2 separate regions of the Homo sapiens genome follow, and region 2 is linked to region 1. The links come from fine-mapping of genetic effects on gene expression. Tissue or cell type: sigmoid colon. Region 1 holds a variant in brackets; the other region holds the start of a gene. All regions are shown on one strand. Distances are from middle to middle.

The links. PIP is the estimated chance that this variant, and not a neighbour inherited with it, causes the effect.
Region 2: it holds the start of PACRGL, and the variant in region 1 is fine-mapped to the expression of PACRGL in sigmoid colon (GTEx, PIP 0.96).

What each region holds. Positions count from the first base shown.
Region 1 is chr4:21,128,401-21,136,668 of GRCh38, forward strand. The region is part of intron 1 of KCNIP4 (potassium voltage-gated channel interacting protein 4); the gene reads right to left. Among named protein-coding and RNA genes, the nearest start is that of MIR7978, 330 kb to the right of the region's middle. The variant C/T (reference allele first, on the strand shown) is at 3,615.
Region 2 is chr4:20,696,042-20,704,041 of GRCh38, forward strand. It overlaps PACRGL (parkin coregulated like), which reads left to right and starts at 4,417. Exons shown (of 9, transcript NM_001258345.3): 1 at 4,417-4,746. RefSeq lists an enhancer at 4,530-4,649.

The sequences.
Region 1 (8,268 bases):
CAAATAAATAAACCCCATTCAGGAAAAAGAGCATTTGTCACAGATTTTTCCCTATATGAAGCCAATATAGGAGACTATAAGGATTGAGGGTAAGGATGCTATTCCCTGAAATGGTTTGCCTCCATAAGAGATTATAAGGCACCAAAAGTGCAGATGTCTCTATTCTATTTACCAACTCCTTCTCATAAACCCGGTGCCTAGAAAAGGGCTTGCCACATAGTAGGTGATCAATGCATACCTCATTTAGAGAAAGAATACAGAGCTATTTGTACTTTCTTGGGAGCAAAAGATTCTCATTTGCAACATGTTTAAACTAGCATAGCCCATCTTTGGCTTACGTTATTATCAGTAAGGAGCACTATGATTATGTGCTATTTCTTACATATCTTATTGCATCCCCAGAAACAGATAATATTCCATTTAGATAAGTCTTGTGTTAAGAACTGAATTCTGTGTGATAAGTAAAAGATTAGTATTTGGAGCCAGGCGCTTACCATTCTAAGCTTTCTTTTCCTGATATTTAAAATGGGGCTATTAATGCTAATCACTTTATAGGCTTGACGGACAGATTAAATAAGGTTGTTGATATGGTTTGGCTGTGACACTACCCATATCTCACCTTGAATTGTAATAATTCCCAGGTGTCAAGGGCAGGGTCAGGTGGAGATAACTGAATCACGGCGGCGGTTCCCCCATACTGTTCTCGTGGTAGTGAATAAGTCTCATGAGATCTCATGGTTTTATAAATGGGAGTTCCCTTGCACAAGCTCTCTTGCCTACCATCATGTAGGATGTCACTTTGCTCCTCCTTTGCCTTCCACCACGATTGTGAGGCCTACCTAGCCACGTAGAACTGTGAGTCAATTAAACCTCTTTCCTTTATAAATTTCCCAGTCTCCGGTATGTCTTCATTAGCAGTGTGAAAACAGACAGCATCTATGTAGCACTCAGGACAAAGTAGACACTCAATACACATTGGTTAACCTCACATTTCACGGGTGAGAAAACTTTGGTTCAGAAGGATTGGATGACCTTCTCCAGGATCACCCCACTGGGAATTAGTGAAGACAGAATTTCAGAAAACAAAACTTCAGATCTCTCTGACCACAGAACCCATGCTCTTCATCCAAGCATCATTGTGTCCACGGCAAGGAGTGTAATTCAGGTGCAAACTTTGCATATTTTCATTTCAGTTTACCTGGCTTACATATAGTAGCTGTTGGCATCAAAAGTACTTGCTTTTAAAATGATGAACTGGCTGCTGTTGACTTTGGGAATGGGAGTGAATTTACGAAAGTTCTCAACCTTGGGGAATTTTTCTCACTTTATAATATAGATAGACAGAAAACTTGGGTCATTTTAAATGCAAGATATTTAGGAGTGGATTCGCTAAGTTTGCTATTTAAAATGTGTCTGATAAAAGTTGATGTTCTTGGGATAAATGTGTCATAAGTTGAGATAATGTAACCAGTGTTGAAGCAGAAATGTTAAAAAAAAAAACAGTGTGAATGTAAATGATGTTTTGTATATCACTGACTCAAAGACTTCTTACATACCATCCTCCTACCTATACTTCATGCTGTATTAGCTGAACTATAAAGTGGCAAGTGGCAATGTGATTTTCATTTTCTCCCGGCAAAACGTTTTGACCTAGGAGGGAGCCTTGAATGACCTTGGCCTTCCATTCCCTGATTTTTTACTGTTCCTTTTTTTTTTAATCCTTCTATATCCTCCCTCATATCCCTAAGCCATACTGAATGTCTTGCAGTTTTGTTAGTCTTGATGCTACATTAGAATCACCTCGCAAAATTGTAAAAGTTGCAGATACCTAGGCATCACTTGCAGAGAGTCTTAATCAGTTGCTTGAGGTATCATTTCTAAAGATTTCCTAAATGATTCTAATGCATAGCTGTGTTTGAGAATCACCGCAATTTTTCTGCCTCTGAACCATTACAGAAGTTAAAATTTCTTTCTTTCTCTTTATCCTCTGTGTAATTCCTAGCCATTCTTCAAAATGCAATTCAGAAGGCACTAGTTCCAAGAAACGTCATCATTGCATAATGTTGGTCTGCCTTTGTATTTAAAAATTTCTCTGTGCTTCATGCTAATCCACAATAGATTTCACTAAACTAAATTCCTTGAACATGAAGACAAGCCATGGAAATTGTTTGTTTGTATTCATAGTGCCTAGAATTGTCCATGTAGGAGCTATTTAAAAATATGTTAAAAATGAATGAGTGGTTGAGAAAGGAATTCTTAAAAAGAGGTTAATAACTCTGGGTACTTGTCCTGGCTGTGCTGTTTACAAATTTGCCCTATAACTCTGATGCTATGTTGACTGCAATTAGATTTAAAATACTATAGTATATAAAGTTAAACATATGCATATATTATGACTCAGCAATTTCCCACTTAGACATCCAAAGAAATGTATAGATAATCATTGAGTTATAATGGGGTTACAGTCCAATATATCCATCATAATTCAAAAACACTGTAAATTAAAAATTCACTTAATATCCCTCTAAACCCTTTTTAAACTTACAAAATCATAAGTCAAGCCATTGTAAGTCCAGATGCTCCTTGACTTATGCTGGGATTATAACCCCCAAAAGGCCATAATCTAGTTGAAAAATCCTAAATTGAACCATTTTAGGTCAGGGAACGTATTTCTGTATATATATGCTCCCCGAAGGTATGTAGTAGATTGTTCATAGTGGCACATTTTTAATAACCAAAAAGCAAAAGCAATCATCAATGTCCATCAGCAGCAAAACGGATAAAATATTTGTGGCATAGACACACATAGGATACCATGTAGCAACAAGAATCCTATAAACGCATGCAATGATGTAGATGAATAATAGATAACTTTGAACATATGGAGCCAATCGCAAAAAAGTACACTATTGTATGTTATACATTTACATATAGAACTAAAACCAAAAAAGCAATCTCTTCTTTAGAAGTCAGGGCAGTCGGGTGGATCACGAGGTCAGGAAATCGAGACCATCCTGGCTAACACGGTGAAACCCCGTCTCTACTAAAAATACAAAAAAATTAGCTGGGCATGCTGGCGGGCACCTGCAGTCCCAGCTACTCAGGAGATTGAGGCAGGAGAACGGAGTGAACCCGGGAGGCGGAGCTTGCAGTGAGCCGAGATTGCACCACTGCACTCCAGCCTGGGCGACAGAAGGAGACTCAGTCTCAAAACAAAAACAAAAACAAAAACAAAAATAAAAACCGGAAGAGGGCAATGATTGGAAGGAAGCACAAGGGTGGATTCTGGGGTGCTGGTTGTGCTTTTGATCTGGTCATTGATTACCCTGTTGTGTCCAGTTTATTAGAAATACATCAAGCAGTACACTTTGGATATGTATACTTTTCTGTATATACATTGTACTTCCATGAAAAGTTAATACTTTGGTATAAACAATATGATAGATTTGTATTTATAAAGTGACTTTGATCTAAACCTTAGAAACACTTGGTTAATATCTGAAAGAATTTACCTTCCAGGTATGGCTTCTCAAATGGGGCCATTGTATTGGATGGCAGTGTTAATCAGTGTTAATTTTTTCAGTCAGAGAGAGGTACCGTGGTAATGAGGAGGG[C/T]GTGTGATGGAGATTGTGTGTGAAAGATGGAGATTTATTGTGCTGTCCTGACAGATGTTTACTAAGTTTTAAAATATTTCAAAATAAATAATTTAAAATGTGAAAAAAAGAGAATTTTGTTGCCCTTGTTTCAGAATCTTCCATGCAAAATGTTTATCAAGCCTCGTAAAAGCACCAACAACAGGAATTTCACCAGCCATATAAGAACAGCCTGTTTCTGTTTAACTTGTTCTTCTATCACTTACTATTAAAAGTTTTGTCCCTTTGACAGAATCAGATTTGCCACTTGTATTTGTAATACACCACCCTATAAATCATTAAAGGCCTCCAATGTTCACCCAAATCCTCATACTTGTGGAATGAATATGCCGGATTAGGAGAAGCCATTTATCCTCTTGGATACTGGATCCAGATTATTCTCATCTGTAGAGCATTGGGTTGTATTTGATGACATTCTCAGTTTTTAACTTTGATCTAGATTATTATTAAAAGTGCCTCATTTCTCTCTCAGAGGTGTCTTGGTTTTGAAAATAATTATATGGTTTTCCTGCTTCCAAGGAATCTTCCAGATTTAGCTTTCTAGACATCTATGGTTTTAAAGATGTGAACTAGATTCAGCAGACCACTGAAGTGCGGGGTAGGCATCTCCCTGTGTGTTTGTCCTTGTGTAGCAGATGCAGATTTATAACATGTTAGAATAAGAAATTTTTGCGGCCAGGCACGGTGGCTCACGCCTGTAATCCTAGCACTTTGGGACGCTAAGGCAGGCAGATTACCTGAGCTCAGGAGTTCGAGACCAGCCTGGGCAACATGGTGAAATGTCGTCTCTACTAAACGACAAAAAAAAAAAAAAAAAAAAAATTAGCCAGGTGCCTGTAATCCCAGCTACTTGGGACGCTGAGGCAGGAGAATTGCTTGAACCCAGGAGGCAGAAGTTGCAGTCAGCTGAGATGGTGCCACTGCACCCCAGCCTGGGCAACAGAGTGAGGCTCCATCTCAGAAAAAAAAAAAAAATGTTTTGCAAATGTCAAAAATTCAAAAATAATCCCTTTTAGGGAAGGGAATTCATTAATTGCCTCATTGCTAATGATTATTACACATGCTAAGATTTCCCTTCTTGAGTGATGCTGAAAGTAGGACAGAAGGATCACGTCATTAAGACATTCCTGTTTTCAATGTCTCTGGGTTTGTCCTATTTACAATCAAAAGTTGCCTACTTCCTCACATACACAATGTTAATGCTTTATTTTCAAAACCTCCTGGGTTTAACATGTGTAATTATTAATTTATTCAACAAATGATGGAGAGAGAGAGTACATTATCTGCTATGTGCCAAGAACTTAAAAGGGTCAGGGCAGATTATTGAGGCAACCGGAAAATGAGGATGATTCCTTCAGTCCTTCTGCATCCCATATTTCCATGGAGTCCTGTGGGTCTTTATGGCAACTCTTGTTTTCTTAAACTCTTATTCCCTAGTCCACATCTTGTGCTACCTTTTCTTGTCTTCTATTCTGCCCAGGCTCCAAGGTTAGGCAATTCAACTATCATCTCCCTGAATTAATCAACCGTCTTCATCTTCCATCATCCTAATCTATACTGCTCACTTAGTAAATTTAGTAAATGCCACTTAGTAAATGCCATTCCTATTTGCTAAATACTGACAGTTAAGACAATTTTAAAAATATTACTACAATTTCTTCTGATTCTGCCATAATTTCTTGTTATGTGATCTCAGTGAAACTCATGAGATTTTTTCTCATTTCTTTTATTAAGTTGTATTTTGTTTTCTAATTTTTACTCTCAAGCCACCAACTTTCAAAGAAGGAAACATACACACTAGAAAGCCCAGACGTTTTGCTTCATGGAGTAGACTGAGGCCATTAGTTTCCTTTTCTAACTCAAAGTTTCTCTGTGTCATCATTCACATCTTTCGACTTCCCTTCTGCCCTGGAGGAAAGAATGTCTTTCTTCTTTCCCCAGTTGCTTGGACACTAGTTTCCTTCTGTACAATTCTTTCTTATCTAACCCCCCAAACCCATAAAATCTAACTTGAGTTCTCAAAATGAGACTAAATTTGTTCTGAGGTCTCCCCAGACCACCCACAGGTGACCTTTGAACAACATGGGTTTGAATGACCCAGGTCCAATTATTTGTGGATTTTTTCCACCTCTGCCACCCCTGAGATAGTAAGACCAACCCCTCCTCTTCCTCCTTCTTAGTCTACTCAATATGAAGATGACGAAGATGAAGACTTATATGATGATCCACTTCCATTTAAAAAATAGTAAACATATTTTCTCCTTCTTTTAATCTTTTTAATAACATTTCCTTTCTCTTGTTTACTTAGTTGTAAGAATACCACATACAATACACATAGCATACAAAATACATGTTGATTTACTATGTTATTGGTAAAGCTTCTGGCCAAAAGTATGTCATTACTAGTTACGTTTTGGAGGAATCAAACGTTATACATGAATTTTCAACTGCAAACGGGGGTCAGCATCCCTAACCTCTGTAAGTGTCAACTGTATTTCCAAAGCCAATAACTCTTCTAAGTTTGCTTTTACATCACTAAGGGGATTTGAAAATTGGCCATCCTGTTCTTGAAATTCTTTCTTCTCTTGGCTTCTTCTCATAGATTTTTCCTTCTCTGCTCTTCCCCAAGATTCCTGTTCCATTTCCTCTACTCTTGTTTTCTGAAAATATACATCCCCCAAGCTTGTGTCCTCTGCCCACTATTCTATCAATATAATCCCATTCACTGTTCTCATGAATCTTTAACTGTCTTTTACCTTAGAAAGCCATATTGTGAGTCAACACAGAGCTCCATGATGCATAGCCTTCGGCCATAAACACAGCTAGGAAATGAGGGCAGAAACTACCATGATGGAGTGGTACTTCTTGACCTAGGCACCTGGCCCATGCTGATGGCACCAGGAGACAAGGCTGCAAGGAAAGGTCAACTTTACAAATGGCATCAGTAGAACTAGAACATGACAATCTAGCTACAAAATTCTCACATACGGATTCAGGTAAACTCCGAGATCTTTTACAATGAACCATTCAAAGACTGGGATCACTTAAGACAGTCTGCAGAGGTCTCACAAAATGGACATTTTAGAAAAGATGGTCAGGTTCACCAGACTGCCTCTTATAAAGTATATCATTGCTGCTCTCTGCTGGTCAAAAGCATTATTCTCTTCAATTAAGATGAGCAGAGGTGTAGAATGGGTCAAAGAGGGAAAGCAGTGCTTTCAAAATGATATGGACTGGTGCTAGGTAAGACTTATTAAATGACTTCATAGACTGCAATATACATTCTTATGCAGAAACACTGATTTTAGTGAGGGTCTATTGGACCCCTAAAGTAAAGATGTGCAAAGCATCCCCATTTTTGTAGACCTTTTACTCATAGAAAATATGGGCTCTATCAGATATTTCTTCAACCACTAAACTAGTCACCACTTTTTAGTGTAGAACTTACTGTAAGGCATCATGTTTGTATTTTTGGCAGGAAAATTGGCAAGTCCTACTGAGGATTATTAACTTGATATACTGCAAAATCCTAAAATGTTATCTTAATCCTAAAATAAAGATTAAATCTACATATACGTACAATCTATTCTACTGAAAACTTATTTTTAAGAGTGTATGGGTAGTAGTTTTTGATTATTCAGAATATTTGCATACAAAGTGTCCTTCATGAGCAGCACAAAGGGGCAAATCTTGGGCTCGAAAGCCTAACACACAGGTTTACCCAGGCTCTGCCACTTACTGGCTTTATTTCCTTGGGTCAGCTCTTGAATATCCTTGAGCTCCACGTCCCTATTTTGAAATGCGGGAAATCATAATACCCACCTCCTATTGTTATTACAAATATTAATTGAAATATTCCCTATGAAATGCTTAACAGTGCTCCCTGCAAGTTAATTGGCAGTCAGTCATAACTGTTACTATTCATGTAAACAGCTTAAGTAGTAGTATTTATTACATCTTCCAAAACAAAAATATTTTACCACGGGTTTTAAATATACTATGTAGATATCTGGAGAAAGTTGTCTTTAGAGCTGTTCTTAGCTCTGACACTGGCTGTGTAATTTAAAGTAATGTCTTAAATTTTCTGAGCCTTGAAATGTTTCCGGATGCTTGCCGTGCCCTAAGGTCCTAACATGTCTCTATGTTTTAATTTTATTTACCACTGTTCAGTGGCCTATGGTACAAAGGGTTTTGTTTTCTGACCTACTGTTCCCCACCTAATGACTTGCCTGAAGAACAAATTACCACTGGAGGAAGCGAGTAATCTTTCTGGAGAATTAGCAAAGGATAATTTTTAGAAGGAACAATGGAAGCAGAAAAGTACACACGCACAATCTTGCCTTTCTCTTTTCGGATATTACCACACTAAAATATGATCTGACTCTTCTGTGTTTATTAGTTCAGCAAATAGGCATTGGGTTTTCACTGGGTTTGTAAACTAGAAGTTACAGTGTGCTGAATCTTGAGAAAACTGATTGCTAGAGGTAGAACAACAAGAATGTTCCAGATGTTTCCTGTCCTTTCCTCCATTCCTCCATTAGGTACCTCTCAAAGCCTAAGTTGATGATAATTCTCTTGGGATGCAGGTTTAGACATGTCTATATTAAGAGACATG
Region 2 (8,000 bases), 430 kb before region 1:
TGTCATCAGTCAGAGTCAAGGTCTAGATCTGAGAGCAAAGAGACAGTATGCTCTGTCCTTCCCATCCTCCATCCTCCCCCCAGGGCAATACCCCAGAGCTAATAAGCCCCTAGATACCCCTGAACCTAGGGTATAGGATGAGAAGAAATGGCCTTGTAGTGTGTCTAGACAAAAGACTCTACGGCAACCTCATAGGTTCCCATGGTTTCTACAAGGTAGAAACCAACAGCTGAATTTCTTAGGCTTCAGATTGGAAGAATAGATTACCTCCTGGATAGTTAAGAGGAGATTGGAATTAGCTCTCAATGAGAACCTGGAATGAAAAACACATGAGCAATCTACAAGAATGAAGGATAAATGACTGAGGACCAGAAAGACCAAAGTACGTATATCCTAGCAGATGACAACAGAGGACCAGATGCCACACTCCTCCAAGCCTCATCCTCTCAACACAATTCCAAGGAGAGAAAGGGTAAAGACATTTGTAAAAGAAATTGAATACTACTATGAACCATAAAGGAAGTTGTTAATTGCACTGACTCTGTAGTCTGAGGTTCATACCCAATTCATGACCTTTACATTTGGATTGATTCTCCAACATCTAATAGTTTGTTGTACAAACAGTATGTACTCTCTAGCTATTTGACACATTTATTGACTTCATTCTATGTTTGCCCAACTGTCAGTGGCCATAGCTTTCTGTACTGTCCAATACAGTAGCCACTAGCCATCTGTGGTTATTGAATATTTGAAATGTGGCTAGTATGGATTTAAATGTGCTATACATGTAAAATACACACCAACTTTTGAAGACTTAGCACAAATAACAAGAATGTAAAATATCACATTAATAGTGTTTATATTTATTCCAAGTTGAAGTGATAATATTTTGGACATATTGGGTTAATAAAAATATACCACTAAAATTACTTTCACATGATTCTTTCCACCTTTAAAAAATATGCCTACTAGGCAATTTAAAATTGTATTATGTGACTTGCATCACTTTTCTATTGGACAATGCTACCTTATATGCTCACTCATGTTGATTTCATTTGCTTTCACCTGAGGAGCCATTATCACTGCTTAATTTGTTCCATGTGCAAGCGGACACTCAATGACTTTATAATGATGATGTCTAACATTTCCTGACAAAGTGTGCTTTGTCAAATTGTACAAATTTCTTGTATCACATTTCTCAATGATAGGACTTGGGAATAATCATTGGGAATGATTGCTTTGTCTGTAATTTGTACAAAAAGGCAGAGATTTTCTTTACAAGAATTAAGACAATATTTTCTTAAAAATGCTTGGTGACTTAAATGTAAGTAAATAAATAATGAATAATTTTTTCACAAGTCAATGAGAACCAGCACAATGAGAAAAAAAATCGTCCTGAGTGGTTTACTTTGGTTAGATTTATTACCTAACTCATAAGGTTATATAATATGGAGTAACAAAAATAGGGCAATTTGAAGAAATTTTATTTATAAAGGTACAGGGTACCACACAGACAGTGCAGTAACCTAGAGATAGTAGCCTCTGAGATTTTGTGCCTAGAACTGAAGTTTGCCATTTAGAAAGTTTTTTAGTCTATTTGGGCTGCTATAGTGAAATACCGTACATTGAGTAGCTTATAAACAACAGAAATTGATTTCTCATGGTTCTGGAGGCTGGAAAGTCCACATCGAAGTATCAACAGATTCAGTGTCTGGTAAGGGACTACTTTCTGGTTCACAGATGAAATTGTTTCACTGTGTCCTCACATAGTGGAAGGAGTGAGTGTTCTCTCTCAGGCCTCTATTATTAGGGCACTAATTCCATTCACGAGTGTTCCAACCCTATGACTTCATCGCCACCCAAAAGCCCCACCTCCAAATACCATCACCTTGGGAGTTAAAATTTCAATCTATGAATTTTGGAGGAACAGAAACAATCAGACTATAGCAGAAAGATGTGATCTTCACTTATGGGTATGACCAGCTTTAGGGAACCCCCTAAGGATAGGAGCAGGAGAATGAATACTCTGACTTCACTCTCCTCTAATTCTCTAATCTCCTATTAGTGTTCTTCAGTAGCCAAACCCAATCAGAAACCAGAGGGCACTGGAGCCTGGGTGATATAGTTTATGCTGATCAGCATCCCAGAGCAAATAACAGGACAAAGGGAAGAGTGTACCTATATGAGAGCAAACAGAAAATATATGGCATATTCTGTCTTTTCAGAATCATTTACTATATTGCTAGGCAAATAGGTCACCTTTTTTCCCTCATCCCATTCTCTCTTAAATAGAAAATTAAACCTTAAAACCTGAATAGAAGACAAAAGTCCACAATCAGTGCTCTGTTTCTCACATATTGTGAGCTTTCCTAGAAGGTATTACTCCTATCGCCCAACTCAGCGTCTACATATGCTGATGGCTCAAAAATCCATAGCTATGCCCAGTTCTCTTTCCTGCCCTCTAGATGAGCAGATCCAACAGCATGCTAGTTAGCTCCCCCTGGATGCCTCACAGGCTTGTCAAACCAGTGTATTCAAGAAAGCACCCACCACTTATTGCATAATATCCTGATAGAGTTGCAATGCCAAGGAGCATGTTTTCTGTTCATTTTCTAAAATGATGACAGAAAGTTTAGAAGAGGCTGTTTTAACTGTGATTAGGAGAAGCTTATACTAATTGTTATTATAAAGATCTGAAAAATCCGTGTCATCGTCCATGGTTCATACACCAACACATAGCATGAGACTTTTGCCACTTACGATGTCCTCCACGTTAGTCTTAATTTGCTTTCACCTGAATAATTGCACTAGCTAATACTTATTGAGTACTTCCTATGTGTCAGGTATTCAATTGTCCTCTTAAATTTAAGTCTCGCAATAACCCAATAATGAAGAGGAAATTGAGGCTTGTAGGAGTCGTCATCCACAAGGACTCATAGCTGATAAGGGGTGGTGAGTTTTAGATAGCTTAACTCCAGAACACATATGCTTGTCATTCCTCTGCGATACTGAATACAAATCATTCTTATAGTCCAGGGAGGAGGGGTTAAAAGGTCACGAACTAGGAGCTCTACTGAGTCTGACACTGGAGATGCTAGGAGTAAGGAAAATATAATAAGTCTTGAGGAAGCTGGAGATGAGAGATTATAAAGTAAAAGTAGCTGAAGATACAGGATATAAGATTTTTTTTTTTAAAAATTTCTTTTTCCTTTTAAAAACGTTAGTTAAGCATGCATTGCGCTAGGCATTGGGGATAGAAAAGCAATAAAGACAATTTCAGTCTAGTGAGAAAGATAGGTAAATACATTATAATAAATTTTAAAACTTAGATTTGTATGCAAGGTTCACAGAACATTAGAGAAATTAGACATAGACAGAATTTATTAATTCATTTTATTCATTCAGAAGACATTAGTTGAATACCCACTGCATTATGCTTGAAGCTGGAGAAATAAAAAGGGCAAAGTTAAAATCCTTATCCTGAGGAAACTCACAATCTAATGAAGATGCTTCTGGGGTGCTGGTCAAGTAGCAAGGATGGAGCTACAGGAGCACAGAAGGATTACACAGCCTCGAGTGCTCAGACAATGCCAATTTAGTGTTACCTAAGCAAAAAGTTAGGGCTTTGGGTTGGCAACAGTAGAGGATGCTAAAGAGGAGTGCAGTGGACAGGTCCAAAGGGCTTGGACTTAACTATGACAACCCAAATTGTTGCTGGTGGAATGCAATACAAGGGAATATGCATTTTCCTGCAGCATCAGTTTTGTTATGATGTGGAGCATAAAATCGTGCTTTTCACTATTAAATATTTTTACTATTAAAAATAATGTAGAGCACAAAATCGTGCTTTTTACTATTTAAATGCGGATATACTGTGAAGAATGCAATAGCATATGAGATTCATAAAATACGACAGGAAACGAATTTCCACAGCTAGGCTTATGATTTAGCCAGATAGAACAGGAAACTACAAGAAAATCCCACAGCTGGGCATGCAGATGGCTTCGGCTCTCACCCCTGAAGACTCGGGGGGAGGAGTTCACAGTCTTCAGTTCTCCGAGTATTGAGGGTAAGATAGCTGAGGAACAATGAGTATTAAGTGTGCGAGAAAAGCGTTTAGGAGTTAAGCACATGGACTGAAGAGAGGCTAGGGCGCAGGCGACTGGGAACCCGTCATCGTCCCTCTGCTCTCCGGACCTCTTATTCGAAAAACATCCTCCACCACGTGCCCCTTTGTCGCCAGAGACAGCGCCTGCAGTGCGTGAGCTGCCCCCTGAACTCCTGGCGCCTGGTTGCCTGGGCAACCCTCTTCTGGGGCGCCTCCGCGACCTCTTACCATTGGTTTAGACGACGCAGCGTGCGTCTGACGTCATTGCGCGGCGCGACCAGGTTCAGGGGCGGGCCGCGCGGAGCCTCATTTCCCCAAACGCAGGCGCTCGGTGGCGGTAGCCGCGGTTGTTGGCCGACCGAGTGCCGGTCATAAGCCCCCCCCGGTGGGGGGCAGCTGGTGTGCGGATCGCGGCGGGAGAGAGGCGCGGTAGGAACGGGTCCCCGGAGCCGTGAACCGCGGGTACAGGTGTCCTGTCTGCGCTCTCTGCCAAGCCGGCTTGCTTCCTGATCTGTTGCTAGGGCCGCTGGACCCCGTTGCTAAGGACCCTTGAGATCGTGAGCGCTTGGAGTGTACCCCTCCTTTCCTGGGGTAGAGGGTCAGTCGAGAGTAGCCTTCGTTAACCTTAATTGAAACTGGTAAACTCCTCCCTCGGCCCCTTTAAAAAATCTCTGTTTTTTCTTTATTTTTTTTCTGTGTCTTCCTCTTTTGCTGACTTTGATAGCATCCTGGCTCTGGACTGGTCTTTAAGTATCTAGAAGTGAGTGTAGGAGGGGTGGCTGGGAAGGTGGAAAATAGATTCTAAGACCCCTAAGCAGATTGTGCGACCCTAATACTGGCCCTTTGAATTTACTTTCTGGTAAAAAAGGGACTGGGATAAGTGACTATTGGGCTCTGGGTCTTTTAGAATTTGACAGAGCTTTACAAATGGAACATGGTTTCTTTAGTGGGGCTCTTACTTACACGTTTGGAACTTTCTAGACCTGGATTAGAAAGCAGGGCTCTGCTGACTGAGAATTGTTTTAGTTCAGTGGTCTTAAAGCTGAGTACGGGAGAAAGTACATACAGGGAAAGAAATAGGCTATATCAGCTGCCCAAACAATGATAGAAAGTACACTTTCCTACCATTGACACAGATACCGGCAGTCCCTTGTAGATAGATGACCTGTAGCAACCAAGGAAGCTTTAAGGGGAATGTGTGGGCTTCATAGGGTGGTTTGTTTGCTTTCTGATATTGTGACATAGTTTAGGTGTTCGAAGTTAAGTGGATTTATGGATTCTAATATCTATAATTAGAATGTTTATCTTGTTTTGTAAAAGAATGAGCGGTGACCTTGATAATATTTGTAACACAAAATAGTTCTTACAGGTTCGCTTCTCCCCATCACTGCCCCTTTACACCATCCTCTACATGTTATTTAATGAAAAACCACTTGAAAGGGTTACCAAGGATAAGATTTTTAAAGCTTGCTTTCACAAACAACTCATGCTCCAGGCTTGTCAGTGGCATGCTTCCAGGTGGATATTATTTTAAAAAATTGACTACATTTCCCGTCGTCCCTTGGTGTCCGTGGAGAATTGGCTCCAGGACTCCCTCCCTCCCCCCAGTCTCTTTCAGATACCCAAATCCACCCATGCCAAAGTCCTCCAGTCTGCTCTCCGTATCCGTGGTTGGGTCAAATCTATAGATGTGGAACCCGCATATACGGAGAGCCAACTGTAATTTGTCGTTAAGGTAAAGGATAAAAATTTTAAGTGAAAAAGCAATTGTTTTGGAAGGAAATTCTCTAATACAGGATTTTGAAAGGGGATGTAGACGTGTTTGCATTACTGTATGTTTAATGCTGAAAATTATATATTGTACATAAAAGTTGTCCTGTATACTCATAAACTGTAGAAGCTCGATTTTCTACCATGTTTAAAACTTTTTCAAATGAGTTTTGGTGACTTTTTGAACTCATTCAAAATATAATGCAACACCTCCCCATTAGTTTGTTACAGGAACAACTTTTTGACGTGAAGGAAGATAGAAATTTAGCCATAAAATTCCATCCAAAACTTCCACTGAATTGGTAGGTAGTATTGAAAAATGTGCATCATAATTTGATATGGCTGCCTGTGCCCTTGTTATGTTTGTGGGTACGCGTCTTTGCTGTGCATCGCTTTTATCTGTTGCAGCTGTTAACAATTGATGATCAAGAGAAATTGGACCTCAGCTGGTCTTCAAATTGATGTAGCCCAAGATGTTAAGCCAGATTTTTTAAAAATGACAAAACATGTGGTTTCACTATTAGTAATAGTAATACTGAAGAACACTTTGTACCATTGTAAAGAAAATTATAATAATAGCTAAGACTCATGTGGCCCTTACTGCATGCCTCCCATTATGGAAATGTTGTTTTACATATATTCTTACTAGTCTTCATCAACACTTAAAGTAGTTCCTGTAATTATGCCCAATTATAGAGTTGAGGAAACTGATGCATTTTTTTTTTCAATAGAAACTTGTGTTGTTCCCCCTCCAGGAGCTTCTCAAAACAGAAGTCAGGCACAATATTAAATACTTGTTGAATGATCACAGAAGTACAATAGTAGGTTAACATATTTAAAGCTTCTCTCAGCTTATTTTAGACTATTATCTGACAACTTTAATGAGATTTTAATTACCGTAGTATTAGAAAATGGCCCTGGGAATGGAGGTGAAGTGTGATACTGGGAAGTAAGTCATCTGCTGGTAGTGGGATGAGATAAATGAGATCAATGTACTAAATCAAGGAAATTGAAATTATTCAGTGTGCAGAAGCAAGCTTACATTTAGGTTATCTTTACATGGTATCAGACTTTAAGCTGGTACATCATGTTTGAGATATCTGGCTAAATTTTATAACATGGAGCTTTGTCCTCCTTTTGAGGATTTCTAACTTGTTAAGTGGATTAAAAGCATTTCATGTGAGGAATCATTTTAAAAAGTATCAGTGTTTATCCTGAAGAAGAAAAAATGAAGGAGTTAAGAGTTAATGCCATCAAATATTTGAAAAAGTGTCATTTGGAGGTGGAAGAGGACTTTACCTGTGTTGTCCTAAGGGAAGATCTTACACTATACTTGAGAGGCAGTCATTATTAAAGGCATTAAAATGAGACGTGTGCTAATAGAATAACTAGATTGTCGTGGAAGTGAGGGAACAGAGTAATCAAGTAGAAATAAGGACACAGGATAGAAATCAATGCCATAGAAATACACATTTGAGAAACCAAGATGAGGAAAGGCTTCATGGAAGTTGGGAATGAAGCTTGGCCTAAAAATACCAGTAGGCACTTGGGTATATGAGTGTGTGTGTGTGTGTGTGTGTGTGTGTGTGTGTTTGTGTGTGTGTATTTCTTGCTAGAGATACAATTGTAGAAATTGATTGGATTAGCTGGAAACCTTGGGGTATGAACTAGAGTCCTCCATTAGCAGAAAAAAAGCAACTGTGTAAGGGAAAAGTGAACCAGTATTCCCTGGGTGAGTAACTTGAGAGATAATTTCATTTGCACCTCCAGAAAACCTTGACAGGCTTTTATTTCCCTCTTTAAACAGGTCAGGAAGTCGAGGTTTAGGGAGGTTAAATAATCTGCCTAAATTCATAAATTTCATAATTGGTAGAACTGAGATGCAGACCCATATTTGAGCCCAAAGCTCTTTCTTTCTCATCACGTGTAGCATTGAGTGTAGGAAATGAAGGAAAAGGAGACAATGGTGATTCTAAGTTTTTCAGTCTGAGGACCAGAAAACTGGTGGTACCCTGGGTTAACAAGGGGTTCATAATAACTTCAGTGTGACAACCTCAGTTTTAGTTACATTCAGTTTAAGGAGCTTGTGATACATTGGGTAGGAGAGTTCATTATGTCACTG